3 separate regions of the Homo sapiens genome follow, and regions 2 and 3 are each linked to region 1. Evidence: fine-mapped expression QTL. A gene starts in region 1. Each other region holds a variant in brackets. All regions are shown on one strand. Distances are from middle to middle. Region 1 holds the start of OR2L13 (olfactory receptor family 2 subfamily L member 13). Region 2 has its middle 6.1 kb from the start of OR2AK2. Region 3 overlaps OR2AJ1 (olfactory receptor family 2 subfamily AJ member 1).

The links.
Region 2: its variant is fine-mapped to the expression of OR2L13 in cerebral cortex (GTEx, PIP above 0.99). The same link has a PIP of 0.9 or more in nucleus accumbens.
Region 3: its variant is fine-mapped to the expression of OR2L13 in whole blood (TOPMed, PIP above 0.99). The same link has a PIP of 0.9 or more in blood mononuclear cells and putamen.

Annotation. Positions count from the first base shown.
Region 1 is chr1:248,089,397-248,100,666 of GRCh38, forward strand. OR2L13 (olfactory receptor family 2 subfamily L member 13) reads left to right here and starts at 5,788. Exons shown (of 3, transcript NM_001395936.1): 1 at 5,788-5,858; 2 at 9,255-9,379; 3 at 9,962-11,270. The coding sequence starts at 9,980. The coding sequence ends at 10,918. It overlaps LOC105373275 (a long non-coding RNA gene), which reads right to left and starts at 6,146. Exons shown (of 4, transcript XR_949369.3): 1 at 6,008-6,146.
Region 2 is chr1:247,953,485-247,964,754 of GRCh38, forward strand. It overlaps a transcript of OR2L13 not described here. Among named protein-coding and RNA genes, the nearest start is that of OR2AK2, 6.1 kb to the right of the region's middle. The variant A/G (reference allele first, on the strand shown) is at 6,132.
Region 3 is chr1:247,932,133-247,943,402 of GRCh38, forward strand. It overlaps OR2AJ1 (olfactory receptor family 2 subfamily AJ member 1), which reads left to right. Exons shown (of 2, transcript NM_001355235.2): 2 at 1,615-3,207. The coding sequence starts at 1,637. The coding sequence ends at 2,623. It also overlaps the pseudogene CLK3P2, a transcript of OR2L13 not described here and the pseudogene OR2X1P. Among named protein-coding and RNA genes, the nearest start is that of OR2L8, 11 kb to the right of the region's middle. The variant C/T (reference allele first, on the strand shown) is at 5,284.

The sequences.
Region 1 (11,270 bases):
TAATTAACTCAATCTCCAGCCCCCACCTCCCCAGAAGTTGAGTCATGGGGCTTGAGATGGAGCAGGGAGCCCTCTTAGTGACCTGTAAGTTCCTCCAAGTGCAGAGATAAAGGAAAAGCTTAAGTTCCTTCGGGGAAATTCCAGGCACCTAGCTAGTCCTGAGAAATAAATGAGCAACTTCATAAGCAAGAAGATAATTATAGCCTAATGCAATAGCCAAGGAAGTTAAAATCACAGGGTACTTAGTTCCTTTATAAAAACTAGAGATAACAGCTTAACATTTGTCCCTGAGTTGTTTTTCAGAAACTTGGAATCCCACTAAATAGCTCTACTGGCACATAGACCTCAGATAAGGAGGAACTGAGGACAGAGCTCGGACAACCATGTTTTCTTCTGAATTTCTTCCTGAAGGTCCTGGAGGAAGTCACACCCATGGATGAGAGTTAACATTGTTTTCTGCTGACTCTAATTTTTTAGACAAAGCTTTACTTCCTTAACCAATCACAAATCAGAAAATTTTTGAATCTCCCTATGATGTGTGGGCCCCCCACTTTGAGATGTCCCATTTTTTCAGGTTAAACCCATGTATAACCTCCATATATTGATTTATGACTTTTCCTGTAACCTCTTCCTCCCTCCCTTTAAAAACTTACCTGTAGCCATCCATCAGAGAGTTCAGGTCTTAAGCATTAGCTGCTCACTTCTCCTTGCTTGCCCCCCTGTAATAAATTCCTCCCTTTCTCTTGCTGCAATCCCCATGTCAGCATTTGACTTTGCTGTATCAGGCAGGCTGACTTGAGTTTCGTTTGGTAACATCTCTGTGGACTTGGGGTGTGCCACTCTCAGGGTATGTAAATGTGTTTGCTAACACAGAAGCTCCCTGAACCCTTTCGTTTAGTATGTTTTTTAATTTCTAGTTTTTGGGGTATATGTGCAAATTTGTCATACAGGTAAATTGTAGGTCACAGAGGTTTCATGTACAGATTATTTTGTCATGCAGGTAATAAGCATAGTACCCAGTAGGTGGTTTCTCATTGTCTCTCACCTTCCACCCTCAAGTAGGCCCCGGTGTCTGTTGTTCCTGTCTGTGTGTCCATGTGTACTTAATGTTTAGCTCCCACTTATAATGAAAACATGCAGTTTTTGGCTTGTAGTTCCTTGGTTGGTTTGCTTAGGCTAATGGCCTCCACTTCATCCATGTTGCTGCAAAGGACATTATCTCAGTCTTTTTGTGGCTGCATAGTATTTCGTGGTGTATATGTACTACGTTTTCTTTATCCAATCTACTATTGATGGGCATGTAGGTTGATTCCATGTCTTCGCTATTGTGAATAGTGCTGTGATGAACATACATGTGCAGGTTACTTTATTGTAGAACAATGTATACTCCTTTGGGTATGCAAGTAATATTGAGATGGGTGGCTTGAATGGTAGTTCAGTTTTAAGTTCTTTGAGAAATCACAAAGCTGCTTTCCACAATAGTTGAACTAATTTACATTTGCACCAGTAGTGTATAAGCGTTCCCTTTTCTCTGCATCCTCACCTTTTGTTATTTTTAGATTTTTTTAGTAATACCCATTCTGACTGGTTATGAGATGGTATCTCATTGTGGTTTTGATATGCATTTCTCTAATGATTAGTAATGTTGAGTACTTTTTCATATGCTTATTGGCAACATGGATGTCATCTTTTGAAAAGAGTCTACTAATATTCTTTGCCCACTTTTTAATGGAGCTGTTTGTTTTCTGCTTGATTTGTTTAAATTTCTTTATAGATTTTGGATAGTAAACTTTTGTTGCATGTATATTTGCAAATATTTTATCCCATTCTGTAGTTTGTCTGTTTATTCTTTTGATAGTTTATTTTGCTATGCAAGAGCTCTTTAATTTAATTAGGTTCCACTTGTTAATTTATGTTTTTGTTAAAATCAATTTTAGTATCTTCATTGTAAAATCTTTGCCAGGTCCTATGTCCAGAATGACATTTCCTAAGTTATTTTTCAGAGTACTTAGAGTTTAGGTTTTATGTTGAAGTCTTTAATCCATCTGAAGTTGATTTGTGTATGTGATGTAAAAAGGGTTCCAGTTACAATCTTCTGCATTTGACTAGCTAGTTATCCCAGCACCATTTATTGAACAGGAAGTCATTTCCCCATTGATTATTTTTGTTGGCTTCGTTGAAAATCAGATGGCTCTCGGTGTACGGCATTATTTCTGGGCTCTCCATTCTGTTCCGTTGGTCTATGCATCTGTCATTGTACCATTAACATGCTGTTTTGATTATTGTAGCCTTGTAGTATAGTTTGAAGTCAAGTAATGCGATGTCTCCAGCTTTGTTCTTTTGGCTTAGGATTGTCTTGGCTATTTGGGTTTTATTTATTTATTTTTATTCCATATGAATTTTAAAATTGTTTTCTCTAATCCTGTGAGGAATGTCATTGATAGTTTGACCTAGGAATAGCATTGAATCTGTAAATTGCTTTGGGCAGTATGGCCATTTTAAGAATATTGATTCTTCCTATCCATGAACATGGAAAGTTTTTCTATTTGTTGGTGTCTCTCCAATTCCTTTGATCAGCATTTTATATTTCTCATTGTAGAGATCTTTCACCACCGTCATTAGCTGTATTCTTTTCATGGCCATAGTGAATAGGATTGAGCTCCTGATTTGGCTCTTACCTTGGCTGCTATTGGTGTATAGAAATGACACTGACTTTTGTACATTGATTTTGTATGCTGAAACTTTGCTGAAGTTATTTATCAAATCAGGGAGCTTTTGGACAGAGACTATGGGGTTTTCCAGATATAGAATGGTATCATCTATAAAGAGAGATATGTTGACTTCCTTCCTTCCTGTTTAAATGCTTTTCATTTTTCACTCTTGCCTAATTGCTCTGGCTAAGACTTCCTACATAATACATATTAATACTTAATGTGTATGTACCTAACAACATAATGTCAAAATAGATGAGGCAAAAACATATAGGACAACAAAAGAGAAATACATAAATCTGCAATTAAAGTTGGATATTCAGCACCCCTCTGTTAGTAACTGATACATCCAGAGGCAGGAAAACAGTAAGAATATAACTGAACAGCACCATCAACCAACTGGATCTATTTCACATCTGTGGACTACTCCATTCAACAACATTAGAATACACACTCATCAAAGTACACCACATTCTGGTCTATAAAACAGACTTTCACAAATTATACCTGCCTCACAGTCTTCTTAGAAGGGTTACACTGGTTAAACCAAAACTTTATTGTCACTAAGAAATTGTAAAGAATCTCTAAACTCATTATAAGCTCCCAGGCTTCATGGAGACACCATCACAGAGTAATTCATTACATCCTGGATTTTTTTTAATTGATCGCACCTACTGAAACCCCTTGTCTATAATATCCATCACCGCTCCAACTTGTTAATGAGTAACTTCCATCTCTGCAGAAAGAAAAAGATGCTCAATCTTTGGTCAGAGCCTCCAAGGAGTATGATTGAATCTTTGACAGCCATATTTTCCTCTAAAGAATTTATGTTTCTGTGCAGATGAAGATGGAAATGGAAATGTAAAAAGGAGATGCTGAGAGGGGCTGAGCCTTGTGCAAAAGTAGAGAGTGGGTTTAGGCAGGAGCACGGTCATTTCATACGCTGTCACAGGAAACAAGGCTGAGTATATGGTACAGAATGAGGGAGGCTGATACAGTTCATGGAAGAAAAGTTTGAAATCTGATTGTTTTATTAACAGGTTTGTTTATTTTTCCCAGAGGAGTCTAAGAGATGTGGAAGTGGGGTAAGGTTTGGGGAAAGCAGGAGGAGGCATGGATCACTACTTTTCAGAGAAAGTCTGCAGAGAACAAGAACATACTGTGACGTGGCAAAAGGGCCATGAGATTTGTATTCATAAATCTGAGATGTATTGTCATAAATTTGAGGTGAGATGCATCATCATATATTGGACTTTCCTCAAGTCACGTTTCATTGCTGTGTATGGATCTTACAGGGACGGTAACAGGCTGAGAATGAGTTTTACCTGGGTTTGAGTTTTGCACTGAGTTAAATGCAAGCAGCACCACATTGCAGCAGGGAAAAACATAGAAGTTACCAAAGACTAACAAGAGCAATAAAAAATCTGTATGTGATCATAACTGGTCCACTCTTCTTATTTAAAGCACTAGAATGGCTTTGTCCAGTTTCGTACTTCATCGTATTTGCATCCAGTATTTATTGAGTCTCATCTCATCATCTCCTAGGACAAAGGGTGCCAAGATAATTCAAGAATCCAGCATTACTTTAGTTCCGGTTCCATCCATGTTGTTGCAAATGAAAGGAATTCACTCTTATTTTTTTTTATGGTTGAATAGTGTTCTATGTATCTAGTAAATTTTCATTATCCATTATATTACATGAAATAAGCCAGGCACAGAAAGACAAACTTTGAGCATTCTTGCTCATATGTGGGAGCTAAAATTAAAAAATAATAAATATAGTAGAATGACTGTTACCAGAGGCTCGGCAGAGTAGAGTAGAGTGGGGAATAAACTGGAGATGATTAATGGGCTCAAAAATACAGTTAGGATGAATAAGACTTAGAATGTAGTAGCACAACAGGATGACTATAGTTAACAATAATTTATTGTATATTTCAAAATAACTAAAAGTGGAATTGGAACATTTCTAACAGAAAAAATTAATAAATGCTTGAGGTAATAGGTACCCCAAATACCCTTATTTGCTCATTACACATTGAATGCCTGTATTGAAACATCACATGTACCTCATGAATATATGCAACCATTAGATAATCATAATAATTCTAAAAAATTAAAGGAAAAAAACAAAGAACATGGATATTAATTTTATAGCATTATTTCTAATTTCTGACATAAAATATAGCAGTTAGTGCCTTCAAAGATAAAAAAAGAACAATATAACCCCAAATAAAGTGTTCTTTTCTAGTTAACCAATGTATGGATTAAAGAGGTTAAGAGATGCTACAGTTGATTGAGCCCTTCCTCTGCAACAGACACTATGTAAACATTTGGCATACATCATTCTATTTAATTATTAGAATGTCCCTCAAATTAGTCCAGTTGTAAAGATTAGTAACAGGCTGAAATCTTAAGTAATTTTCCCAACTCAGCTTCCTAATTAGTGGCATAGCTGTCAGACTAGAGTATTCTCTCTGACTCTAAATGCTCATTTTATCACATTGTCTCTAAGAGTCAGCTTTCACTTTAGTAGAATAGCTAAATGGATATATATTGTCATGTATCAATTATCTACCCCCACCTAACAAGTAGAAGGAAGTGTTTTATCCTAGTATAATTTAATTTAGTCACAATCATCAATCATTCCCCCTGGAAACTCACTAAAGAGTGGACAGGAAACTATCCTTGGGACTAGTTCTGCTATTACTGAGTCGAGTACTTGTAAGTGGTTCCTGCACTTTTTTAATCCGGAATTCTCTAACTTACATGATGACAGAATTTCCATAAACATAATTTAACATCTTCTATAGCTCTGAAATCATGTACTGGAATATTAAATACACCCCTCTTTAGTCTGATTCTGGGTAGCAGCTGAATGCAGCAAAGTTGATTGGGTTGGTTGATTTGCTTTAAGTTCAGAATTTGAGTTCATCCCCAAATCAGCAAAGTCAAGTGAAGTGACCAAGGTTTTGGCCCCCGTGGACTTGGACACTGGAGATCAATTAGAGGAGAAAGAGGAATATCTAAGGGTTGGTGACTTAAGGTTCTGTGTGTAAAATATAGCCATTCATCCTTCTGTCTTCCAATGGTGGAACCTGAGAGACTTCAGTGTAAAATGCCTTATTCTGTTCTCACTGAAACAAGGTAAGAGGAAAGGAAGAGACTTTATCTAAACACTGCATATGCAAACAGGATAATATTTCACAAGAGCTGGTGAAGTTGTTTTCTGATTTCACCATAAAGACAATGACTAGCTGTGGGAGCTGTAAGGAATGAATATTATAAAGTGTTACCTGGTGTTTCTTCCTCATGAATTTTGGCAGATAAAGAAGAGATTCTCACTTCAGAAAGAGTTTTGGTTTAATGCAGAGCCTATTGATCAGTGATATAATGTTATTGATAGCCTGATATACTATCAGAACATAGTTTGATGCTTACATGTTTTAAATAATTATATGGAATGTTTGCAGATTATGATGTCACTGTAAAGCTGCTGCTTTTTTTTTTTTTTTTTGAGATGGAGTCTCACTATGTCACCCAGGCTGGAGTGCAGGGTCACGATCTCAGCTCACTGCAACTTCTGCCTCCCAGGTTCAAGTGATTCTTCTGCCTCAGCCTCCCGAGTGGATGGGATCACAGGCGCATGCCACCACGCCTGGCTAATTTTTGTGTTTTTAGTAGAGATGGGGTGTCACCATATTGGTCAGGCTGGTCCCGAACTCCTGACCTCGTGATCCGCCCGCCTTGGCCTCCCAAAGTGCTGGGCTTACAGACCTGAGCCACTGCGCCTGGCCATAAAACTGCTTTTTATACCACTATATAAACTGAAGAACTTCGGGCAAAGTGAGTCATAGTAATATAACTGAATTGAGTTGATTTGGGTCGGCTTTATCCTAGAAAGCTTTTTTGGAAATGTTTTCCTATCATCAGGAAACTCTCTGCTGCACAGGGAATAGACAGTTCCATAACAAATTGAAAAAGAAGGCTGGGCACCCAGGTGGCTCATGCCTGTAATCCCAGCACTTTGGGAGGCCGAGGTGGGCAGATCACGAGGTCAGGAGATCGAGACCATCCTGGCTAACACAGTGAAACCCGGTCTCTACTGAAAATACAAAAATAAAAATTAGCCGGGCGTGGTGGTGGGCGCCTGTAGTCCCAGCTACTGGGGAGGCTGAGGCAGGAGAAGGGCGTGAACCCGGGAGGCGGAGCTTGCAGTGAGCCAAGATCAGGCCACTGCACTCCAGCCTGGGCGACACAGTGAGACTCTGTCTCAAAAAAAAAAAAAATGAAAACCAAGAGTGAACTAAAAATGTAAAAAAAGGTAACATGAACTTGTTAGAGTTGCACTATGTGCAGCTCTCAAACAATGTGACATTAATAAAAACATTTTCTCAGGGCGTGAGGGCTCTCCATGGTTAACACAGGGAATGGGCAAAGGACAGTGACAATTACTAAGGACCTACTATGTGCTGAACACACAGAACTGTGAATTCTCTTTATAGTTGTCCTATACGTTGTTGAGATTGAGGGAGCTGAGTCTATGACTATTTGCTATTGGTCTCCTGCTGATTGTTTAAAAGAGTTTTAAGAAGCATTCACTAATTGTAATTTTGCAAAATAAATTCAGGACCCTACACTTGCTACACTTACATTGTTAGTTTCTGTGAAATGAGGTGTTTTTTAACTCTATAAATTTCAGCAACGTATCTTTTAGAATGAGAAAGAAAATAAACTTTTTATCTGAGGAATAAGTAGCCCCCTTTAAATTATCAGGCCCAGCAAGATTGAAATGTGGCCGCAGTCACATCTCACTCTTTCTTGAGCTAGGTAATCATCTCTTGAATCTACGTGCTATGGGGGCTCTGGACTGACTTGTGGCAACTAACCATGAATTAACCTATCAATCCCCTAAACCACATATCCTATAGTTAAATAATGCATAACCAATCACTGATCAATGTTGTTTCTGAAACCAGTGAGACTTGCTGATAAATAACTTTAGAATTTGTCTCCACTCCTGATTCCTCCCTTTCTTTACCTTAAAAACTTGGGTCTCTTCTTGTTCTCCAGGTTACTTGCCACAGAAGTGTTTCTGGGCTGCAGCCCTCAACCTTGGCCCAAATAAACTTTCTGTATTAATTTTGCCTTAGTGTCGTTCTTTAAGTCAACAAGGATGGCCAAGGCAGTCACTAATCTCACACTCACCTGATAGCCACAGGAACAACATTTTCCCAGCTATAAGGTAACCGACAGAATGATGCTTCATGTAATTCTGGTGCATGAAATAAGGTCCCATGTCTAACAAGGAAAGCTGCTGGACATCAATGGAAATAGATCCTAAACTCAAACTCCAATATCCCATGACCTAAAATCTCCAAGTCCCAGATTCACAGGATCCTAAAAGTAACTATTCTCTTCCATTGCCTAACAACATGCCACTTTTCCATTTTTGGAAACAAAATCATTATTGTAGTAACTGCCATAAAACAATCTTTATAATACTCTGAGCTATAGTCTATGCAACAAAGAATCAAAATGTCTCTCTTCAAAACAACTCCAGGATGGAACACATAAACCTACACCCAAGTCAGCTTGTTCAGGGCTCGGTATTGGATACACCTCATGGGATCATGCTGGCAGCTTTCTTCCCCTGGATTTAAACCTGGATTAAACAAAGGAATTCAGAAAGCACTACAAAAGGCTTTTCCAATTTCCAGGACATGTTGGGCATCCCCTAAGGCCTGGGCACATCAGGACAGTTGGTCGCCCACTTGGGGATGGGACAGCACCTGATGAATCATTCTATCCCCACTGCCTCACTCAGTGACTACTGCATCAAAGGCTGTCAACATGTTAATCTGATAAAATTAATCAAATATTTGCTTGGAACTAAATTACTAGGATAGTTCTTACTGATAGAATGAAGCCACATGAGTTACAAAATCAATCTTTATCATACATACCCTGGAAATTAGAAAAGTCGTTTGGAATACTTTTTGAATTCCTTTGTTTAATCCAATGATCTCTCTGCTTTTTTATTTTTCTATAGAATCGTAATCACTACATAACATCACTGTATGTTTGAGTTTGTTGGTCTATTGTTTGTATAATTATCTCAATTTTAATTACATATTCTAAAATCCTTTGTGTTTCATCACCAAAGCACATCAGTAGCTAGCAGCACTGTCATAAAACATAAATTCAGTGAACACTATTTGAGGAAATGAATGTATCATAATGATGGTTTTCATGTTTTTTTCTGATCAGTTTTTATTTCTAAAGCACTATAAGAAGCAGAGAGTGCCTGTGATCCCATTTGGCATCCAAGTCCAATGCTACTGTGCACCTGTCATGTTCCCAACTTTTCATTGTTAGTGTTTATTCCTTAGACAGCTATAGAAATGAATTTCCATTTTTTTTCCTGTGGCAGGCTCTCTTTCACAATTGTATTCATGCTACCCAAGGTTATATGAACTAACAGTTGAGTTTAAGTTCCTAAATGTGAATAATTGCAACAAACTATGATTTGCTTTTGAACAGCAAAAGTTGAAAAATCAGTAACCCAAGATGACTAACCAAATCAATATGCTGGGCAGGATGAGACATCAGTGTCTGCCTCAGACAGAAGAGCACACACAAAACATGACCTCTCACTCCAAGCCCAGGTAAAGGAAGAAGTCACACAGATGTTAGAAATATAGTTTACGAATACCTGGGAAACTGCATGAAGAAAAAAACAAACTGCCAGATTTGGGGTGGTGTAAAGAGAAAAAGAGAGATTCTAAAAGTCATAAATAAAAATTCCCAAGGAAAAGCCTAGGCATAAAAAGCTAGACAAACTTTCCAGGGAGGGAAAATTATTTATTTTTGTTTGCTTGATTTCTTTATTCTCAATTATTAACATTTAATTGTGTTGTTCTATCTAATTAAATTGGAAGACATGCTTAAGCCATAAATTACAATTGTTCTACTGCTCACACTGGCTTTTCCAGTTGAATAGATTTGTAGCTGCTTGACTCTGCTGTCATCTACAGTAATGAAAATCAAACTATAAGAACAGAAAGTGAATATCCTCTCTAATCTCCATATGCTTCAGATATAGAAATTGATTAAAAAAAACCTGCAGTGTTAGTGGAGAAACAACTCATTCTAAACAAACATTGATAAAGTCAGTTCCTTTTTGTTTTTCTATTGTGTTTTATTTCATGTTTTGTGCTTTGCTTTTGTTTCTATTTCTCTTTCAACAGTTACAGCAGAAAGTTTTCATGGAGAAATGGAATCACACTTCAAATGATTTCATTTTGTTGGGTCTGCTTCCCCCAAATCAAACTGGAATATTTCTCTTGTGCCTTATCATCCTCATATTCTTTCTGGCCTCGGTGGGTAACTCGGCCATGATTCACCTCATCCACGTGGATCCTCGTCTCCACACACCGATGTACTTTCTTCTCAGCCAGCTCTCCCTTATGGACCTGATGTACATCTCCACCACCGTCCCCAAGATGGCGTACAACTTCCTGTCCGGCCAGAAAGGCATCTCCTTCCTGGGATGTGGTGTGCAAAGCTTCTTCTTCCTGACCATGGCGTGTTCTGAAGGCTTACTCCTGACCTCCATGGCCTACGACCGTTATTTGGCCATCTGCCACTCTCTCTATTATCCTATCCGCATGAGTAAAATGATGTGTGTGAAGATGATTGGAGGCTCTTGGACACTGGGGTCCATCAACTCCTTGGCACACACAGTCTTTGCCCTTCATATTCCCTACTGCAGGTCTAGGGCTATTGACCATTTCTTCTGCGATGTCCCAGCCATGTTGCTTCTTGCCTGTACAGATACTTGGGTCTATGAATATATGGTTTTTGTAAGTACAAGCCTCTTTCTCCTTTTCCCTTTCATTGGCATCACTTCTTCCTGTGGCCGAGTCCTATTTGCTGTCTATCATATGCACTCAAAGGAGGGGAGAAAAAAGGCCTTCACCACCATTTCAACACATTTAACTGTAGTGATCTTTTACTATGCACCTTTTGTCTACACCTATCTTCGGCCCAGGAATCTCCGCTCACCAGCTGAAGACAAGATCCTGGCAGTCTTCTACACCATCCTTACCCCCATGCTCAATCCCATTATCTACAGCCTGAGGAATAAGGAAGTCCTGGGGGCTATGAGGAGAGTGTTTGGGATATTCTCTTTCCTGAAAGAATAATCATGGCCATCCCCACTCCCTTTGTATTTCCTCTTTCCAAGTTGATTCCAACACGCTAGAGCAGGGTTGTCCAATAGAAATACAACATAATTTAAAATTTTCTAATAGGTACATTTAAGCAGTCAAATAAATTTAAATAATATATTTAATTCAAAACAATGTTATAATTAATATTAATATTAACAATATTGATGTTAATTACATAGCATACTATTTCAATAAATTATATGCAATATATTATAGTACATGTTTGTACATATATTACTATTAACGTGATAATGTTTATTCTTGTATATTGACATAGAATTTCTTCATGTAATAACACAAATTTGTTAATGTTGCCTTTTACTCT
Region 2 (11,270 bases), 140 kb before region 1:
TAAAGGATGAGTATCTTTCTCATCACAAGAAGCTGTGGTTCAATAGTCAAATAGAGCTGTGGTTCAATAGTCAAATAGGGTAAATTGAAGGAATGAATGATATGCCATCCACAAATATGCTAAGTTGGCATATTTATTAGTTTGAGCTGAAAACATTGAAGAAATTTTGGTTAACATTAGAGGAAGAGGTTATCTGACCTGTCTTTTTTGGCATGCAGCAAGCTCTAAAGATTCCTCCAGGAGTCTTTGGTACATTCTAATACTCTTTCGGTACCCTCCCTGTAATGGAATATAAAATAGCCCTTATCACTACAGCCTGGGAATTGGGGGAATGCAGTGTACCTGAATAAATAAACTACCAGAATTAACTCTTATTTTTCACTATCTTTACACCCCCATATACCTCCTAGGGACTCCCCTGGAATTTATGGTTTCGAGCCAGTGTCTCTTTTTTTTTCTTTGTAATTTTTTCTGCAATTTATCATTCTGTTTCTAAAAGTATAAAGACATCTTGCTTTGACCATTTATTTAGATTTCACACTCTTGTGAGGATTCCCATGTACATGTGAAATGCATAAAACTCATATGCTTTTCCTTCATTAATCCATCTTGTATCAATTTGTTTCCTATACCTGGGCAGAAAGCTCACATAGGAGATAAAGCGGGTGAGGTGGAGGTGATCCCTCATGTTTCCACAGAAGTAATAAGTAGCTTCCTTTTGTAAGATTTATGTCAACCACCACTACTAAATTTTTTTTACTTGCCTTTTAAATCTGGAAAAAAATAGACAATGACTTTTAAAGGCTAAATATCTTTTCAATTACTGAATAATTATTCAGTACTTACAGCATGGTAAGAAAATGCAAAGATATATACATGGATTCCACAAATTGGATGGAGGTCAATTTGACATTTGGGACTTAATCTCTGCTATTTTGTCTCATTACCACAAATTCAACATAAGATCCTTTTAATTTTGTCTGCTAAATATTTTAAAATACATTTATATTCCTAAATCCCTGGGATCACTGCCCTTACTTTTCATAGGGTTTTCTAGTTAAATTTAAACTGACATTAAAAATCTGATTGTATCAATCAAGGTCCTTAATTGAAAGTGAAATATAAAATGTCTTTTCTTTTTTTTTGATTTTTTGAGTACTGCTAGATTTAATTGCTAGTGACTACAAAATTAGTAACTTATTTCATGTGTTTAAAAATGCAAAACTGAATTTCTGCATAACAAGATAAGGAGGATAATCAGTGGATATTTAAAGCATGCCAACGTTTTCATCATGTTCAGGAGGAAGATAAGAATACGACTTGAAAATTGCTAGAAAAAGATCATCATTATGTATACATTAAGACTTTCTCAAAATTACAATTATGTATACAGTACAACTTCTATTTCTGACAGTATGTTGCACTAAATAACCTGAAATTTGCCATTCATTCATTCATTCAATATATATATATATATTTTTACTTTAAGTTTTAGGGTACATGTGCATAACGTGCAGGTTAGTTACATATGTATACATGTGCCATGTTGGTGTGCTGCACCCATTAACTCGTCATTTAACATTAGGTATATCTCCTAATGCTATCCCTCCCCCCTTCCCCCACCCCACAGCAGGCCCTGGTGTATGATGTTCCCCTTCCTGTGTCCATGTGTTCCCATTGTTCAATTCCCACCTATGAGTGAGAACATGCAGTGTTTGGTTTTTTGTCCTTGAGATAGTTTGCTGAGAACGATGGTTTCCAGCTTCATCCGTGTCCCTACAAAGGACATGAACTCATCTTTTTTTATGGCTGCATAGTATTCCATGGTGTATATGTGCCACATTTTCTTAATCCAGTCTATCATTGTTGGACATTTGGGTTGGTTCCAAGTCTTTGCTATTGTGAATAGTGCCACAATAAACATATGTGTGCATGTGTCTTTATAGCAGCATGTTTTATAATCCTTTGGGTATATACCCAGTAATGCGATGGCTGGGTCAAATGGTATTTCTACTTCTAGATCCCTGAGGAATTGCCACATTGACTTCCACAATGGTTGAACTAGTTTACAGTCCCATCAACAGTGTAAAAGTGTTCCTATTTCTCCACATCCTCTCCAGCACCTGTTGTTTCCTGACTTTTTAATGATCACCATTCTAACTGGTGTGAGATGGTATCTCATTGTAGTTTTGATTTGCATTTCTCTGATGGCCAGTGATGATGAGCATTTTTTTTCTTTTGGCTGCATAAATGTCTTCTTTTGAGAAGTGTCCGTTCATATTCTTCGCCTGCTTTTTGATGGGATTGTTTTTTTCTTGTGAATTTGTTTGAGTTCATTGTAGATTCTGTATATTATTAGCCCTTTTTCAGATGAGTAGATTGCAAAAATTTTCTCCCATTGTGTAGGTTGCCTGTTCACTCTGATGGTAGTTTCTTTTGCTGTGCAGAAGCTCTTTAGTTTAATTAGATCCCATTTGTCAATTTTGGCTTTTGTTGCCATTGCTTTTGGTGTTTTAGTCATGAAGTCCTTGCCCATGCCTATGTCCTGAATGGTAATGCCTAGGTTTTCTTCTAGGGTTTTTATGGTTTTAGGTCTAACATTTAAGTCTTTAATCCATCTTGAATTAATTTTTGTATAAGGTGTAAGGAAGGGATCCAGTTTCAGCTTTCTACATATGGCTAGCCAGTTTTCCCAGCACCATTTATTAAATAGGGAATCCTTTCCCCATTGCTTGTTTTTGTCAGGATTGTCAAAGATCAGAGAGTTGTAGATATGCGGCATTATTTCTGAGGGCTCTCTTCTGTTCCATTGGTCTATATCTCTGTTTTGGTACCAGTACCATGCTGTTTTGGTTACTGTAGCCTTGTAGTATAGTTTGAAGTCAGGTAGCGTGATGCCTCCAGCTTTGTTCTTTTGGCTTAGGATTGACTTGGCAATGTGGGCTCTCTTTTGGTTCCATATGAACTTTAAAGTAGTTTTTTCCAATTCTGTGAAGAAAGTCATTGGTAGCTTGATGGGGATGGCATTGAATCTATAAATTACCTTGGGCAGTATGGCCATTTTCATGATATTGATTCTTCCTACCCATGAGCATGGAATGTTCTTCCATTTCTTTGTATCCTCTTTCATTTCATTGAGCAGTGGTTTGTAGTTGTCCTTGAAGAGGTCCTTCACGTCCCTTCTAAGTTGGATTCCTAAGTATTTTATTCTCTTTGAAGCAATTGTGAATGGGAGTTCACTCATGATTTGGCTCTCTGTTTGTCTGTTATTCGTGTAGAAGAATGCTTGTGATTTTTGCACATTGATTTTGTATCTTGAGACTGTGCTGAAGTTGCCTATCAGCTTAAGGAGATTTTGGGCTGAGACAATGGCGTTTTCTAGATATACAATCATGTCATCTGCAAACAGGGACAATTTGACTTCCTCTTTTCCCAGTTGAATCCCCTTTATTTCCTTCTCCTGCCTGATTGCCCTGGCCAGAACTTCCAACACTATGTTGAATAGGAGTGGTGAGAGAGGGCATCCCTGTCTTGTGCCAGTTTTCAAAGAGAATGCTTCCAGTTTTTGCCCATTCAATATGATATTGGCTGTAAGTTTGTCATAGATAGCTCTTATTATTTTGAGATATGTCCCTTCAATACCTAATTTATTGAGAGTTTTTAGCATGAACGTTGTTGAATTTTGTCGAAGGCCTTTTCTGCATCTATTGAGATAATCATAGGTTTTTGTCATTGGTTCTGTTTATATGCTGGATTACATTTATTGATTTGCATATGTTGAACCAACCTTGCATCCCAGGGATGAAGCCCACTTGATCATGGTGGATAAGCTTTTTGATGTGCTGCTGGATTCGGTTTGCCAGTATTTTACTGAGGATTTTTGCGTCGATGTTCATCAGGGATATTGGTCTAAAATTCTCTTTTTTTGTTGTGTCTCTGCCTGGCTTTGGTATCAGGATGATGCTGGCTTCATAAAATGAGTTAAGGAGGATTCCCTCTTTTTCTATTGGTTGGAATAGTTTCAGAAAGAATGGTACGAGCTCCTCCTTATACCTCTGGTAAATTCGGCTGTGAATCCATCTGGTCCTGGACTTTTTTTGGTTGGTAAGATATTAATTATTGCCTCAATTTCAGAGCCTGTTATTGGTCTATTCAGAGATTCAATTTCTTCCTGGTTTAGCCTTAGGAGGGTGTATGTGTTGAGGAATTTATCCATTTCTTCTAGATTTTCTAGTTTATTTGCGTAGAGGTGTTTGTAGTATTCTCTGATGGTAGTTTGTATTTCTGTGGGATCGGTGGTGATATACCCTTTATCATTTTTTATTGTATCTATTTGATTCTTCTCTGTTTTCTTCTTTATTATCCTTGCTAGTGGTCTGTCAATTTTGTTGATCTTTTCAAAAAACCAGCTCCTGGATTCATTGATTTTTTGAAGGGTTTTTGTGCCTCTATTTCCTTCAGTTCTGCTCTGATCTTAGTTATTTCTTGCCTTCTGCTAGCTTTTGAATGTGTTTGCTCTTGCTTCTCTAGTTTTTTTAATGGTGATGTTAGGGTGTCAATTTTAGATCTTTCCTGCTTTCTCTTGTGGGCATTTAGTGCTATTAATTTCCCTCTACATACTGCTTTGAATGTGTCCCAGAGATTCTGGTATGTTGTGTCTTTGTTCTTGTTGGTTTCAAAGAACATCTTTATTCCTGCCTTCATTTCGTTATGTACCCAGTAGTCATTCAGGAGCAGGATGTTCAGTTTCCATGTAGTTGAGCAGTTTTGAGTGAGTTTTTTAACCCCAAGGTCTAGTTTGATTGCACTGTGGTCTGAGAGACAGTTTGTTATAATTTCTGTTCTTTTAGATTTGCTGAGGAGTGCTTTACTTCCAACTATGTGGTCAATTTTGGAATAGGTGTGTTGTGGTGCTGAAAAAAATGTGTATTCTGTTGATTTGGGGTGGAGAGTTCCGTAGATGTCTATTAGGTCCGCTTGGTGCAGAGCTGAGTTCAATTGCTGGATATCTTTGTTAACTTTCTGTCTCTTTGATCTTTCTAATGTTGACAGTGGGGTGTTAAAGTCTCCCATTATTATTGTGTGGGAGTCTAAGTCTCTTTGTAGGTCTCTACGGACTTGCTTTATGAATCTGGGTGCTCCTGTATTGGGTGCATATATATTTAGGATAGTTAGCTCTTCTCGTTGAATTGATCCCTTTACCATTATGTAATGGCCTTCTTTGTCTCTTTTGATCTTTGTTGGTTTAAAGTCTATTTTGTCAGAGACTAGGATTGCAACCCCTGCCTTTTTTTGTTTTCCATTTGCTTGGTAGATCTTCCTCCATCCTTTTATTTTGAGCCTATGTGTGTCTCTGCACGTGAGATGGTTTTCCTGAATACAGCACACTGATGGGTTTTGACTCTTTATCCAATGTGCCAGCCTGTGTCTTTTAATTGGAATATTTAGCCCATTTACTTTTAAGGTTAATATTGTTATGTGTGAATTTGATCCTGTCATTATGATGTTAGCTGGTTATTTTGCTCGTTAGTTGATGTAGTTTCTTCCTAGCCTCGATGGTCTTTACAATTTGGCATGATTTTGCAGTGGCTGGTACCGGTTGTTCCTTTCCATCTTTAGTGCTTCCTTCAGGAGCTCTTTTAGGTCAGGCCTGGTGGTGACAAAATCTCTCAGCATTTGCTTGTCTGTAAAGTATTTTATTTCTCCTTCACTTATGAAGCTTAGTTTGGCTGGATATGAAATTCTGGGTTGAAAATTCTTTTCTTTAAGAATGTTGAATATTGGCCCCCACTCTCTTCTGGCTTGTAGAGTTTCTGCTGAGAGATCTGCTGTTAGTCCGATGGGCTTCCCTTTATGGGTAACTAGACTTTTCTTTCTGGCTGCCCTTAACATTTTTTCCTTCATTTATACTTTGGTGAATCTGACATTTGCTTTTCTTGGAGTTGCTCTTCTCAAGAAGTATCTTTGTGGCGTTCTGTGTATTTCCTGAATTTGAATGTTGGCCTGCCTTGCTAGATTGGGAAAGTTCTCTTGGATAATATCCTGCAGAGTGTTTTGCAACTTGGTTCCATTCTCCTCGTCACTTTCAGGTACACCAATCAGATGTAGATTTGGTCTTTTCACATAGTCCC[A/G]TATTTCTTGGAGGCTTTGTTCATTTCTTTTTATTCTTTTTTCTCTAAACTTCTCTTCTCACTTCATTTCATTCATTTGATATTCCATCACTGATACCCTTTCTTCCAGTTGATTGAAGTGGCAACTGAGGCTTGTGCATTCGTCACGTAGTTCTTGTGCCTTGGTTTTCAGCTCCATCAGGTCTTTTAAGGACTTCTCTGCATTGGTTATTCTAGTCAGCCATTCATCTAATTTTTTTCAAGGTTTTTAACTTCTTTGCAATGGGTTCGAACTTCCTCCTTTAGCTCAGAGTAGTTTGATCATCTGAAGCCTTCTTCTCTCAACTCGTCAGTCATTCTCCGTCCAGCTTTGTTCCATTGCTGGTGAGGAACTGCGTTCCTTTGGAGGAGGAGAGGCGCTCTGATTTTTAGAGTTTCCAGTTTTTCTGCTCTGTTTTTTCCCCATCTTTGTGGTTTTATCTACCTTTGGTCTTTGATGATGGTGACGTACAGATGGGGTTTTGGTGTGGATGTCCTTTCTGTTTGTTAGTTTTCCTTCTAACAGTCAGGACCCTCAGCTGCAGTTCTGTTGGAGTTTGCTGGAGGTCCACTCCAGACCCTGTTTACCTGGGTATCAGCAGCGGAGGCTGCAGAACAGCGGATATTGGTGAACAGCAAGTGTTGCCGCCTGATCGTTCCTCTGGAAGTTTTGTCTCAGAGGAGTACCAGGCCGTGTGAGGTGTCAGTCCACCCCTACTGGGGGGTGCCTCCCATTTAGGCTACTCAGGGGTCAGGGACCCACTTGAGGAGGCAGTCTGTCTGTTCTCAGATCTTCAGCTGCATGCTGGGAGAACCACTACTCTCTTCAAAGCTGTCAGACAGGGACCTTTAAGTCTGCAGAGGTTTCTGCTGCCTTTTGTTCAGGTATGCCCTGCCCCCAGAGGTGGAGTTTACAGAGGCAGGCAGGCCTCCTTGAGCTGCGGTGGGCTGCACCCAGTTCGAGCCTCCTGGCTGCTTTTTTTTACCTACTCAAGCCTCAGCAATGGCAGGCACCCCTCCCCCAGCCTCGCTGCCACCTTGCAGTTGGATCTCAGACTGCTGTGCTAGCAATGAGTGAGGCTCCGTTGGCGTAGGACCCTCTGAGCTAGGCGCGGGATTAATCTCCTGGTGTGCCATTTGCTAAGACCATTCGAAAGTGCAGTATTAGGGTGGGAGTGACCCGATTTTCCAGGTGCTGTCTGTCACCCCTTTCTTTGACTAGGAAAGGGATTTCCCTGACCCCTTGCACTTCTCAGGTGAGGCCATGCCTTGCCCTGCTTTGGCTCACGCTCAGTGTGCTGCACCCAGTGTCCTGTACCCACTGTCCGACAATCCTGTGTGAGATGAACCCGGTACCTCAGTTGGAAATGCAGAAATTACCCGTCTTCTGCGTCGCTCACGCTGGGAGCTGTAGACTAGAGCTGTTCCTATTCGGCCATCTTGGCTCCACCTCCAGAAAATTTATTTTCATTGAGATATAAAAGAAACATTTTTAAAAATCGGGTGGCTCATAAATTTTCAGAAACACAGAAGAATCAGGCTTGGTATACACACATTATGCACAATGCCCAATATGAGCCTGGAATAAATTCCACACATCACCAGGACACAGACAGATAAATGGGCATAATCTCCAGCCTAGAACTGTCAGGTCAAGTAACCTCAAGGAAGACCACATTGCATAGGTTTGAGGAAGTATTTGTAAGAAGATAGTATTGAGAACTGGGTCTTGGAAGGAATTGGGCATGTGGACTGTGGCTCATGAAATTGACTTGAGGCAGATAGATGAGAAAGGATGGGAATGTAATGATAAGTAATCTACAAGCCTGTTTGTAAGGCTTGTGATGGTAAAGTAAGGTGCCCTTTGGGAAGCAGGCTAATTGAACTGCCTAGATTCAAGGAAGGCAAAGACTCCGATGTCCGGTTCAGATGGACCATGGATAATATACAAGGAAATATCTCCTAGTAGAGTCAGGGATCATGGACAATATTGGGTCAGAAATTTGTCCCAAGATCAGGATCCACATCCAGAGAAAGAAGCCATGTCTGGACCTGAAGAGGAGGACTCCCTGTGTTTTTATTGGGAGGCAATGACTGGGTAGAACTTTGGGGTGTCTTTCCAGACGGTGTTTAAATAATTTCATGGATAAAATGCAGTTTACATTTTTGGATATTTGGTAGCTAGCAGAGCTCAGTATTACACACTTTGGCAAAGGCCAAAAAAAAAGCCTGATTCTCGTGTGTTTCTGAAAATGTATGAGCCACCCGATTTTTAACTTTTGACTCATTAAAAATTCAGAATCTTACTTGTAAAGATTAGAACAGTTACTGGAAGGGGGCCAATTTGGTCAGGGAGAACCTATTTTCGTTGCTGCTTCCAGTGTGATCATATGATCCCTCCCCTCCTCCATCTCAGATTTCCAGATTTTCAGAATGGAGTCCAATTTTTTGCTTTGGCCCAGAGGAGAAAGTCTAAGAAATATGTAAATATACTGAGTAAACTTAAAAATTTCACAGAAGTTGTGCCTTTACCAGAAGTAGTGGGTTATTTACCTTCAGTATCCTCTATGAATTCTATAATTGTAAACTGGTGAGACTAGAGTGCCAATTAGGTAATTGCAAAGATATTTCCCTGGTGCTAAATCTTAATTAGTGGAGACAGCTACCAGGGATCAGATGCTAACTACTGATTCAGTAGACTATTGAAAGTAAATTAATACAAGTATCTACCATTCACAGAAGAAAGTATTGACTCCAGGAGAAGGAGAAGGGCTGAATGTCAGGAAGCAGACACTGGCTGTGTGACACTGATTTAAACTGCAAGTAGAAATTCATCAGGGCTACTAATTTTATCACAAGTTAGAGTTAATGACCTGATTAAATATCTCATAAGTATTGAATGGTTTATCCCTATTTGCCCTATAAATTTCACCTTTTCAATGTGCAGTTTTACCAGCGTAAACTTTTTTGAAAATCTAACTATCACATTATAGCAGAAGTGTCTACTTTTACTATTATCAGCTAAAACATCTTTTTGGCCTCCTAATAAACTGCTTTGTTAGAAATATAGTTGCACTGTATCTTCCCAGGTAGTTTTAATTGACTTTCTACAAATCGCCAAATTTAATTGTTCCTAGATAGTTGCATGTTTTAAAGAAATCCAGGAAAAATACTCCTAAATATGACAAAAATATTTGATGCAATTCCTTGCTCATATTATTATTCTTGTAAATTATTTTTCTTTAATTTCTAAATAATACATGTATTTTCTTTTTTTAAGAATAAGACTCAAATTTCAATACACAATAAATTGAAGAAATAGATAAGTTTGGACTTGCAAATGTTCTAGTCAGATTATCACAGGGCAAACCGCAAAATTGAGGCTCAGCCCGGGATGCCATGTGGGTTCTTGCCTTCATGCAGGAAGGAATTCAAGAGCAAGCCAACAGAGTAAAGTGAAAGCAAGTTTATTGAAAAGTCAAGGAATAAAAAGGTGCCTACTCATAGGCAGAGTAGCAGCATGAGCTTACCACATACTTGGGGTTGTTATTTCTTGATTATATGCTAAACAAGGAGTGAATTCTTCATGTTTTCTGGGAAAGGTGAGGGGAGTTCCAGGAACGGAGGGGTCCTCACCTTTTCAGACCATATAGGGTAACTTCTGGACTTTGCCATGGCATTTGTAAACTGTCATGGTGCTGGTGGGAGTTTCCTTTGGTATGTTAATGTATTCTAATTATAATGAGCAGTGAGGACCACCAGAGGTGGCTTTCATTGCCATGATGGTTTTGGTAGGTTTCAGTCAGCTTATTTACCACATCCTGTTTTATCAGTGGAGTCTTTGTTCCTTGTATCTTTTGAAACAAGTCCGGCTGAATTCCTATCTCAGGAATATTCAAGGGCATTTTGAAAAACATACATGCTTGGGTTGAAACTCCAGATTTCAGATTTTTAGTATAATCGAGATATGCCTTTTTCTTATGTCTATGTTTTAGTTAATTTTGGCATAGTTATAAGTAATTAATATATGACAATAACATAAGCATAAAATTAGAAAAACATTTAGAATTTAGGCTGATTTTCTTTCCAATCTGCATTCCTCATATATGTCCTCTGTCCTCTCTCTAGTACAAAAAGGGTTTCCAGTTCATTGTGTATCATTCCATAGGTAGACACATATATGACCATATATTATTTTTATTAATTACTATTCTGCATCTTACTTTTATTAATGTTGTTATGGTAAAATTTAAAACACATACACACACATAGCCATAGGCAAGATAACCACAAGGAAACAAGGTATGATAAATTGAACACCTGTGTGACCACTTGCCAGTTCAGGATATAGACCAATGTCAGCACGCTCAGAAGCCCTTTGCATTCCCATTTCCAAACAAAAAGTCCTCCTTCCACCTGAATGTAATTACTATCTTATCTTGTAGTAATACTCTTCATACTTTATTTATAAGTTCTAAAGAAATGTGTAAACAGTGTACATTAATTTTAAACCACTTATTCTACTGAGTTTGGCCTCCAGTGAGTTTTGTGTTTATGACACATTCCTGTCTCTCATTTTTATTGACATATAATATTTCATTGTGTCATCTTACTGCAGTGTGTTTAGCCATATCAGGATTGATGGGCACCTATTTGGATTCTATCACATCTGATGCTGTAATGGAGATGGCTATAGAAATCTACTGGTCTTCCTGTGCAAAGCTCTAATTGATTATATACCCAGGAACTGCTGCGTTATAGCACAAGTAAATTCCAAATTTACTAGAAAATAACACATGACTTCCAAAGAGTATGAAATTTGCACTCTATTGGAAGACTTTGGAAGTCATAATGATCAAATTTATCATCCACACAATTTTTCTGTGTATTTCTTTTATTATTTTTAAAGTTTCACAATTCTGGTATATATAGTGCATGGTGGTGTTACTTTACATTTCTCTGGTTTTTAGAATAATATTTAATACTCTATTTTATATTAACATAGCATAGTTCATTAATTCATTCTACTTTGGGACATTTTCAGTTTCTGACTATTTTGAGTAATGCTGCTATGAATTTTCTTCTACACATCTATGATACGTGTTCTTAAACTTTTATCTT
Region 3 (11,270 bases), 160 kb before region 1:
GTTCGAGACCAGCCTGACCAACATGGTGAAACCCCATTTCTAGTAACATACAAAACTTAGCCGGGTTTGGTAGTGGTGCCTGTATTCCAAGCTACTCGGAAGCTGAGGCTCGAGAATTGCTTGACTCCAGGAGGCTGAGGTTGCAGTGAGCTGAGATCACACCACTACACTCCAGCATGGGCAACAGAGCAAGACTCTGTCTCAAAAACAAATAAACAAAACAAAACAACAACATAAAAAACAGGCAGGACTAATTACACATACATTTATAAACTTCATTGAGGTGCTTATCTTTTCTAACTCTTCTAGGTCATAGCACACAACTGTTGTTATTCAAGGAAATTAAAATAGGATTAAGTGATCTGTTTATGAAGAATCTCAATATTCACAAAAATTAAAATAATCATTTATATATTGTCGGTGACATACTTCTGCATTTATTTTACAAAAGGGAAAATCTAAGCTCATTTTATTCAAACAAGTAGTTGTTAATAAGATGGAAAATAATTTTTTAATGTTTGTTATTTGTTTTGATGATCATAAAGCATCTTGAAAGACAGAAACCTGGACTAATGTATTTATAAATTTTATAATTTACGTATTAATATGTGAAAGTATATATGTATGTATTTATGCATATTGAGGGAAATGTTATACATACAGAAGGTGCACAAATAACTCTTATGTAAACATTTAAGTAACCACTATCAAAATATAAATAAATGATATGAACACCTACTATCCCACATATAGAATTAATACATTATACTTCAATTTCAACAAGTTAACCAAACACGTAAATATGAAATACAACCTTAAAGACACATTGTTGATGTTGACTAGATGATACTTCTATTTTTTACATTTAAAATATAGTGTTTCAAATTATAAACATATTGAGTTTTGTGACAATATTTCATTACTTATTATTTTGGAAAGTCTTAGAATTATACATTTTATTTTCTATAAGTTTAATCTAAATAATAAATGCAATAGACAGAAAGACAAGTTCCACAGTTCATTCATTTCATTCAAATATTCAACATTCTTGAGCAACTGCTATGCACTAGGCTCTGTTCCAGGCAGTTGGTTATACCAGTGATCAGAACAAGGATCTCTCATTGTGAAGTAAAAATTCTGGCATAGAATGAAAATAAACAGTAAATATAACCAGTGTGTTTATTATTTAATGTACTAGAAGGTGAAAAGTGACATGCAAACATGTGAAAATGGAGCAGAGCAAGGAGGACCAGGAAATTAGGGTTTAAGTGGGAGCCCTACAATTTTTTAAAGGGTGTGCAAGGATAGGCCTCCTTGGGAAAGTGACATTTGAGAAAAGAGTAGATTTGAGTAAATTATGTGGAATTAATTAAGATTATGAGACTCAAGATGGAGCCAAGGGCCCACTCAATATACTGAATATCATCGATTATTTGAAGAAAGAAATGCCCAGCTTGTAAAACATGCCCACTCCAAAAACTGGCTAAGAGTATTTTGATGTTGATTACAAAACATGCATCACTAACTCTCATTTTATTATGCAGGTATATTATTGTTAGATTAAGATTTACACTAATATTTTTTCTTTATTATTAATTCATTATTTCTTTTTAGGTTAAAAAATAGAGAATTCATGATGGGCCATCAGAATCACACTTTCAGCAGTGATTTCATACTTTTGGGATTGTTCTCTTCTTCCCCAACAAGTGTGGTCTTCTTCTTAGTTTTATTTGTCATTTTCATTATGAGTGTAACAGAAAATACGCTCATGATCCTCCTCATTCGCAGTGACTCCCGACTCCACACTCCAATGTATTTTCTGCTCAGCCATCTCTCCTTAATGGATATCTTGCATGTTTCCAACATCGTTCCCAAAATGGTCACTAACTTTCTGTCAGGCAGCAGAACTATTTCATTTGCAGGTTGTGGGTTCCAGGTATTTCTGTCCCTCACCCTCCTGGGTGGTGAGTGCCTTCTCCTGGCTGCAATGTCCTGTGATCGCTATGTGGCTATCTGTCACCCGCTGCGCTATCCGATTCTTATGAAGGAGTATGCCAGCGCTCTCATGGCTGGAGGCTCCTGGCTCATTGGGGTTTTCAACTCCACAGTCCACACAGCTTATGCACTGCAGTTTCCCTTCTGTGGCTCTAGGGCAATTGATCACTTCTTCTGTGAAGTCCCTGCCATGTTGAAGTTGTCCTGTGCAGACACAACACGCTATGAACGAGGGGTTTGTGTAAGTGCTGTGATCTTCCTGCTGATCCCTTTCTCCTTGATCTCTGCTTCTTATGGCCAAATTATTCTTACTGTCCTCCAGATGAAATCATCAGAGGCAAGGAAAAAGTCATTTTCCACTTGTTCCTTCCACATGATTGTGGTCACGATGTACTATGGGCCATTTATTTTTACATATATGAGACCTAAATCATACCACACTCCAGGCCAGGATAAGTTCCTGGCAATATTCTATACGATCCTCACACCCACACTCAACCCTTTCATCTACAGCTTTAGGAATAAAGATGTTCTGGCGGTGATGAAAAATATGCTCAAAAGTAACTTTCTGCACAAAAAAATGAATAGGAAAATTCCTGAATGTGTGTTCTGTCTATTTCTATGTTAAATGCCTGAAGGATACTCATGAGAGGTTTCCTAGAAAGAAATCAAAGCTTCTATCTTACCACATATAAGAAGTGAATATTTCAGAAACATTGTTAATAATAAACAATAATATGTGTTTGTGTTGTAAACACGTACCTCTAAAAATGTAGTGTTCCTTCTGTGGTACCAATTATAATCATGCAACAGTTACAGGAAGTAGAAGTTACCCAAGGCGTCCTATTCCCTAACACCAAAATTGTAAGACTTATGAGAATATCCCTAAAAATACAGTCACACATCCATTGTATAAAAGACAAATCCATGTTTATTTTTATAAAACTTTGTTAAATTATATTGCTAACAATCACTTATCAAAAATTCACAAATTCCATATGAAATCATTATTCTTTGCCTGGTTTATCAACACCTTTATTTAGTAAAATTTTACAGATACACATATATATGCACACACACATATATATGTACACACATATATACAGATATAAGTTGTGTTAAAATTGAATTACTCATCCTATGCTAGAAGCAACTATACAATATTAGATAGGAATATCATAAAAATTGCCTTATTTCATTTATACATACAGGATGATGTTTTACAAACTCTTCTAGCAATTTATCCTAATAGTTATTTCAAAGAAGATAATAAATATTTCTATTGAGAATTCATTTAATTTTTTTCCTTTTTTTTTTTTTTTTTTTTACAAACACTAAGACACACTTTGTAAGTTTAAAATGTATGGGCCAGGCGCGGTGGATCACGCCTGTAATCCCAACACTTTCGGAGGCCTAGGTGGGCGGATCACGAGGTCAGCAGATCGAGACCATCCTGACTAACACGGTGAAACCCCGTCTCTACTAAAAATACAAAAAAATTAGCCGGGCGTGGTGGCGGGCGCCTGTAGTCCCAGCTACTCGGGAGGCTGAGGCAGGAGAATGGCGGGAACCCGGGAGGCGGAGCTTGCAGTGAGCCAAGATGGCGCCACCGCACTCCAGCCTGGGCCACAGAGCTAGACTCCATCTCAAAAAAACAAACAAAAAACAAAACAAAAACAAAAACAAAAAACACGTATGAACAGCTTGAGTCAAATCTGCCTTCTGGCAGCTGGGCACCAAGTCTGCTCCCCCGCAGGCTCCTGCCTTCCTTCACATTGCACTGCTCATTGTGTGGTTCTGGTCCTGGGACCTGGTGGTAGGGGCTGGAGAATGGGGATTGGGCAGCCCAGTTCCGCTCTCCTCATGCAGTGTCCTGCGTCTGTCATCTGCTTGGGTTGTGGCTTGTGTGGAAGGACCACGACTGAGGTTGCCAGGCCAGCAAAGACGGGGTGCAGAAGAGTCTCAGCCAGAGTGATGTGCTGGGCAGCGTCCAATTTTACCACCCTCCGCATCAGGTCAAACAGCTGCACGTGCTCCAGAGAGTCTTGGAGCATGTCACTCTTCAGACGTTTGCAGTTCTTCACATATGGGCTGTCAGAGCTGTTCTCATCCCAAACTAGGCCCCATTTGTAGAAATATTTCTGCTTCTTGGTACAGGAGATCACGCGTAATGGGATGAGCCGTAGGGTCTTCAACATCACCAGGCGCTCTTGGTTTTCACAGGTCTGGAAGAGTGTGAAACCTGGTAGTACTTAAAGAGAAGGTAGCCCATGCCCTGGACATGGCAGGGGCGTGTCCAGCCCAGATCAAGGATCAGTTCAGGCAGGCGACAGTGACCGTGGTCACCATGGCGATGTGGTGCCCACGGTCAGAGGTGGCATTGGGGAAGTCAGCCACTCGGACGCTGGTGCTCCTCACTGACTTCTCATCGCTCCTGTGCTCGCTGTAGACGGTGTTTAACTCAGAATCCACATGCAGGATGTTCTCGGTTTTCAGGTGTGCGTGGGTCAGCCGGTTCTCGTGCAGAAATCTAAGGGTGTGGCAGAGCTGGTGGGCCATGTGCCAGACATGTGGGAGGGGAATGGCTGGATGTTATTCTCCTTCGGGAACTCAAGGGTTTTCCTGCCCAGGAGCTCAAAGGTGATATGCATGGACCGCGGAGGGTGAACCAGTCACACCCCAAGACGCACAGCAGCTGGTTCTCTTAGTCCTTCTCGTTTATTTTTTTCGAGAGCGTTGAGTTTTGGCGGTGCCGCCTCCCGGTGCTTGCCCACATTGCAGATGACCCTCCGGCAACCCGAGACGTCCTTCTGGCAGGGTCCAAGCACTCACCCCCTTGCCACAGGCGCCTTGGCCCAGGTTCCCACTTGTCTTTATTGCTCTTGGGGCCAATCACCGACCCGGCCACCAGGTGGCGCCTGTTTATCATCTTCCGCACCTGCGCCCTGGGCTCACTCGCTGGGGCTGCCGGAGGACGCGCTCCTTCAGGACCCGCTGCGGCCACCAGGTGGAGCCTCTTTATCATCTTCCGCACCCGAGCCCCGGGCTCACTCGCTGGGGCTGCCGGAGGACGCGCTGCTGCGAGACCAGCCGCGGCGTCTTTGGCAGTAGTGGGCGTGCTTGCGGGTCCAGGAGGGCCCCTCTCCCGCGACCGCCGACCACGATGAGAGCGTGAAGACCCTCTCGAAAGGAAGGGCTCTGCTCTACACACTGGTGTCTCCTGCGGAAGGGCAGCTGGGCACGCCTTCCAGACCGAGGTATCAGACGAGAGGCCCCCTGGGGACGGGG[C/T]GGTTACCGCAGTCTCCCTTCTTGCTCCCGACTGTCAGCCCTCCTCCCCTCCCATCAGCAGCTCAGGGATGGGGCTGGCTCTGGGGCCTCCTCTTCCATCAACCCCTCAGCTACGGGGCTGGTTCAGGGGACTCCTCCCCTCCCATCAGCAGCTCAGGGATGGGGCTGGCTCTGGGGCCTCCTCTTCCATCAACCCCTCAGCTACGGGGCTGGTTCAGGGGACTCCTCCCCTCCCATCAGCAGCTCAGGGATGGGGCTGGCTCTGGGGCCTCCTCTCCCAGGCTCAGCTGCCGCTGGGACCCACTCCCCTGAGCGCCTCTCCCCTAAGTAATGTTATTCATAGCAAAAACTAGAAAAACACATTTTAATGAAATAAATGTTCAGGTTAATTTTATTATAGCATGCCAACTAAATGTTTTATACTATAGAAATAAATATTTAACAAAATATGAAGATATATATGAAACTTTAATGAAAAATGATTAGCCTTTCACAATTGGAAAATTAAAAACAATAGTAATAAATGTTAACCATATTTTGGTGAATTGGACATCATAACATATTGTAGGCATACATGAAATATGGTACAAACATTTTAAAAAGAACAGTGTGGCAATATATATTAAGGACCTTAAATAAACTATGAAATTATCTTCTAATAATACAACTATTTAATGTTCATAATTTAGACATAAAATAAGCAATTATTATATATTAATAACATTTTTTCCCTGACAATTGAGTTTTTTTACTTGATTCCAGTCCTGTAACAGTCTCCTATCCCTGGTGTGCTAAGGAGTTTTATTTCAGTAGAGAATGAGTAAAATTACTAATATAATGATATATAAAAATGTATTGCTAAGAGACGTTCAAAATTGACTGGAAGTGCTAATGTTAATATTAGATGCATCAGGTGCTGTATTTTTTTAAAGCCTGCTTTTACAACTCATAATAATACCTAATGTGGACCCAAGAGCAGCATGAAATCAGAGACAGTAAAAATCCGAATAGCAAGATATTATTGTAAGCAAGAGAAAGTCATTCTGCTGAACAGATCTGAGGATGATATAGAAGTTTAGAAGTCAGAATTCATAGATTTACAAATTTCCAGATTAAAATACAAAAATAATCTGTGATAGGGCTAAAAAACATTTTTTTCCTGTTGGGGATATAGAAACATAGAAACGCCTACATTGAGGGTAGTAGAAGACTTCATGTAAATAAACATGCCCACACACACATGCACACATACACACTGACACACACACATATATTTTTCTTAATAAAGAGTGTAAAGAGCATGGTTCAATCAGTGTGGGATTGTAAAGCATACTTGGATGAAATTGGAAGTGGAAAGTAAGATATTTTAAACATTAACCACATACCTAAAGTACTGCACATAGAAATAATTAGGCTTAAAGGTAAAGCCTATCACAATCTAAAGACATGCATTTGTAGTGGTGCGTGTTCAGATACCTGGGTATTGTGGTGGAGATACACATAGTCTTTTGAACATTCCGTTGTAGGTCGCTGGTAGCTGGATATGTCCTTTAAACTTTTGTGGCAATTCATTTGAGAAGAAACGCAGCTTTTTCTATTGAGTTCTTATGCTATAAGTAAAGGATGCAAGACATTAATTAGACAAAATAAGGTAAAATTTTGTATTCGCTTAGAGAGTTTAAGAGGCTATTAGCCACTAGTCTCTATAGTGCCTAAGTAAATCGATTCTGCTTAATAAACTGCTACCTGGCTTAGTAAGTAAACAAATTGAAACTTATTTTAGGAAAGAAATATATATTCTTATATCTACATCAGATTCTCTTATGTAGAAACACTAGAGGGTGAATGAGGAGTTAATGTAAGCAGCATCATATTTTTGCTCATTCCTTTCTCTATGATTTCTGCTTCTTCTGTCCAAATTCTGTGAGGTGTCCTCTAGATGAAATTATCACAGGCATGGAAAAGGTCATTTTCCACTTGGTCCATCCTCATGATTGCAGTTGTAACATACTGGGACTCATTCATTTTCACATATGTATATGAGACTTAAATCATCCACATTTCAGGCCAGGTTAAGTTTCTAGAAATATTCTATGCTTTCCTTGCACTTACACTCAATCCTGTCGTCTACAGCGTTGGCACTGACAGTGTTCTGGTGGCAATGAAAAATATGCTCTAGAGCAACATTCTACATAAAAAAAAGAATAGGAAAATTCCTTTCACTTGTGTATTCCCTCTATTTCCACATTCAATGTCTATAGAGTGTTGTTAGTTTCTTTGGAAAGAAAACCGAACCTTCTGTCTTTCTAAGTGTAGAAAGATGTGGATATTTTCAAAACCCCAATAATAATAAAGTTTTTACATATGTTTGTTTTTTCAATGCATGTCTAAAAATGTATTGTTCCTCTTGTGGGTACCGATTTCAATCACTCAACACACTCTAGAAAGACAAAGATAACCTAAGGCTTCCACCACCCTCCCACTAAAATTGTAAGAATATATAAGAATTACATTTGAAATACAATCAAACCATTATATTAAAAACATGTACTAATATAATATCTGTGTTTTTATGAAACTTCCTAAAATTGTATTTCAAGTCTCACAATCAGTTTCTTTTCAAAAATCTACAACTCCACTTGAAATTACCATTATTCATTGAATGGTTTGTTTTGACACTTTAGTTTCCTCAAGTGAAAAATACATGCACATACACATATATACATACACATACTTACATACATTGATTGTAGTCAAATCAAGTTTCTCATTCTTTGTTGGAAGCATGAATACAATATTTAAGAATATCCTGAAAATTATGTCTTATTTCATGTATACATACAGGCTTATATTTTACAAACCCTTCTAACAATTTATCCTAAAAGTTATTGCAAAGAGAAAAATAAATGTTTCTATTAGGAATACTTTTAAATGGTTTTATTAATAGGAAAAACTAGAAAAACATTTTAATGAGGTAAATGTTTTAAGTTAATTTTATCAAGTTAACTAGATTTTGTATATTTAATAAATATCATAAAGTATTTAACAAAATATAAAGGTATCATAGCAAGCTTTAATGGGTGAAAGTGTTACTTTGCCTTCTATAATTGGAAACTTTAAGACAGTAACAATAATTGTTATCAAAGTTTTGGGTTGAATTTAACAGAAAACCTATAGGTATTCCTTATCCAACTCACTGTTGATGAGCACCTAGGTTGAATGTATGTCTTTGCTGTTGTGAATAGTGCAGCAATGAACATATGAATGCATGTGCCTTTTTGGTAGAATGATTTTGTGTGTGTGTGTGCATACGTGCGTGTGTGTGTGTGTGTGTGTGTGTGCGCGCGCTAAGCAATGGAATTGCTGCGTCAAATGGTATCCTTTTTAAATTTTTTGAGAAATCTCCAGACTGCTTTCCATAGCTGCTGGACTAATTTACATTCCCACCAACAGCATATAAGAATTCCCTTTTCTCTGCAGCTTCATCAACATCTGTGCTTTTTTTTAAATTTTTTGTAATAGCCATTGTGACTTGTATGAAATGGTGTCTCATTGTGGTTTTGATTTGCATTTCTGTGATGATTAGTGATGCTGAGTATTTTTTCGTATGCTTGTTGGCCACTTGTATGTCTTCTTCAGAGATGTGTCTGTTCATGTACTTTGTGCATTTTTTAATGGGGTTGTTTTTTGCTTGTTGATTTATTTAACTTCCCTATATATTCTGGGCATTAGATATTTGTCAGATGCTTAGTTTGCAAATATTATTTCCTATTCTGTAGGTTGGCTGTTTCCTCTGTTGGTAGTTTCTTTTGCTGCACAGAAGTTCTTTCATTTAGTTAGGTCCTGCTCATCAATTTTATTTTGTTGCTGTTAATTTTGGAGACTTATAAGTCAGGTAGAGGAGTAAGTATTTGGGTTATATCATAGATATTGAAAGGTTTGCTCTCTGAGGCATGTCAAAAGAGAGTTTAGATATATAAAGAATGGTGAATGGATACTAGACTTTCTGATGAACTAGCATTACCATGCCCCTCATTTATTTATTTACATGGTCATTGTAAAGGAGATATGGAATATGTAAGAAGTTTGTTATATGCATGATACTTGGAGAAATAGACATGGAAGATGAAAAAAATAGATGGATTTTGGTCTTGATTCCTCAATTAAACCAACAAATTCCTGTGGTGCTATTTGGACAGACGCCGAATGGAGAGAGATAGAGAAAAAGAGAGAGAGAGAGAGACCTTGTCATGAAAGAGAGAGACCTTGTCATGAAAGAATTTGTGAAACAAATGGACAAGCATTGGTACCTATAGAACCTAGTGATGGAGTGTGACTCAGAGCTGTGTACAAAGGCTGTCTCTTCATTTCATTAATGAATACAATGTGTGGCAGGGATACAGGAATGTCTCTTATTCTCTTCGGCATCTTAAAGTTTCTGTATGTTTCAGATTTTGTGGCATGGAGCCTTCCTAGTGAGAATCCCAATCATGATTAATTCCCATTTGGTCTCACAAGCTGGTAAATACTGGGAATTATTGTGTTACTATGACTGTAGCCTCCCAGTACCAGTCTTGGTTTCCTTTCTTTCTGTCCTTCAATCCAGACTGGCTTTCAGATACACACATACACAAAAAAACTACATGATCTCACTTACATATTGGGCCTAAAAATAATTGGAATAAGTTGCCCAGACTGGTCTCAAACTCATGGGTGCAAATCATCTGGAAACCATCCTCACAAAATGAATAAAACTAAATTCTGGGTTTTTAACCAAAAGCATAAACTTTTAGTAGAAGCATACAGTAAGCATGAACCAGCTTGCCCAATAACCTATTTTGTGTGGCTGCTTAGTGCTTAAAAGTCATGTAGCCCCTGTCACAAGGTCCTCATTTCCCTTAATTGCTTCTTTAGATATCATCTTTAATATTAGGAAACCTCAAGTTTTCTACATAAAATGTTTTCTAGATCCTGAATTCCAGTGGGTCCACGGAACCAGTGGGGCTACCGAGCTTGTCTGAGAAACTGACTCAGTGTACTACATGTTCTACTTGCCAATAATTAAACTAGTAATATAAATTATATAATATTGGATTAGTCTTAATCCCAGTCTCTTATTGATTCCTAATGACATTTATGAAAATAATTTGGTGTTCTAAATTTTCTATAAAAAATTGCCCAAAGTCATAAAGTAACTGAAAATAAATTGCTCTGCAGAGAAGCAGAAACCTGCCAAAATTTTTAAAAAATGTATTTGGAAATTAAATTAGAATAGTTTCAGTGCATTTAAATGATTTTTATTAGGGTAAATATATATAAGAGAAACACCATTTTAACCATTTTAAGTGTAGAGTTCTGTGTCATTGCACATTTATATTGTGCAATCATCCCTATCGTGCATATCCAAAACAGTTTCATTGTCTCCAACTAACACTTTGTTCTTGTTAAACAATTACTCTCCTTCTCTCCCTTCTCCCATTCCCTGGGGTCCACTCTTCCACTTCCTCTCTCTATGAATTTCACTACTCTGGGTACTTCGTGTAGGCGAATTCATACAATATTTGTCTTTTGTGACGGACTTATTTCGCTTAGCATAATATATTCGAGGTTCATCCATGTTGTAGCATGCGTCAAAATGTCTTCTCTTTTTAAAACTATATATACATACATTTTTATTGATTCTTCTGTAGATGAGCACTTTCTTTCTTTCTGCCTTTGGGCTATTGTGAATAATGTTGCTATAAACATGGGCATAGAAATATTTGTTTGATGCAAAAACAGAGTAACAAATAAGTGGGAGCTAAACATTGGGTACACATGGACATAAAGATGGGAATAGTAGACACTGGGGACTCCAAAAGAGGAGAGTGAGGGAGGAGGCAAGGGTTGGAAAGCTACCTATTTGTACTATGTTCATTATTTTAGTGAAGGGTTCAACAGAAGCCCAAACCTCAGCATCACACAATATAACCATGTAACAAACCACA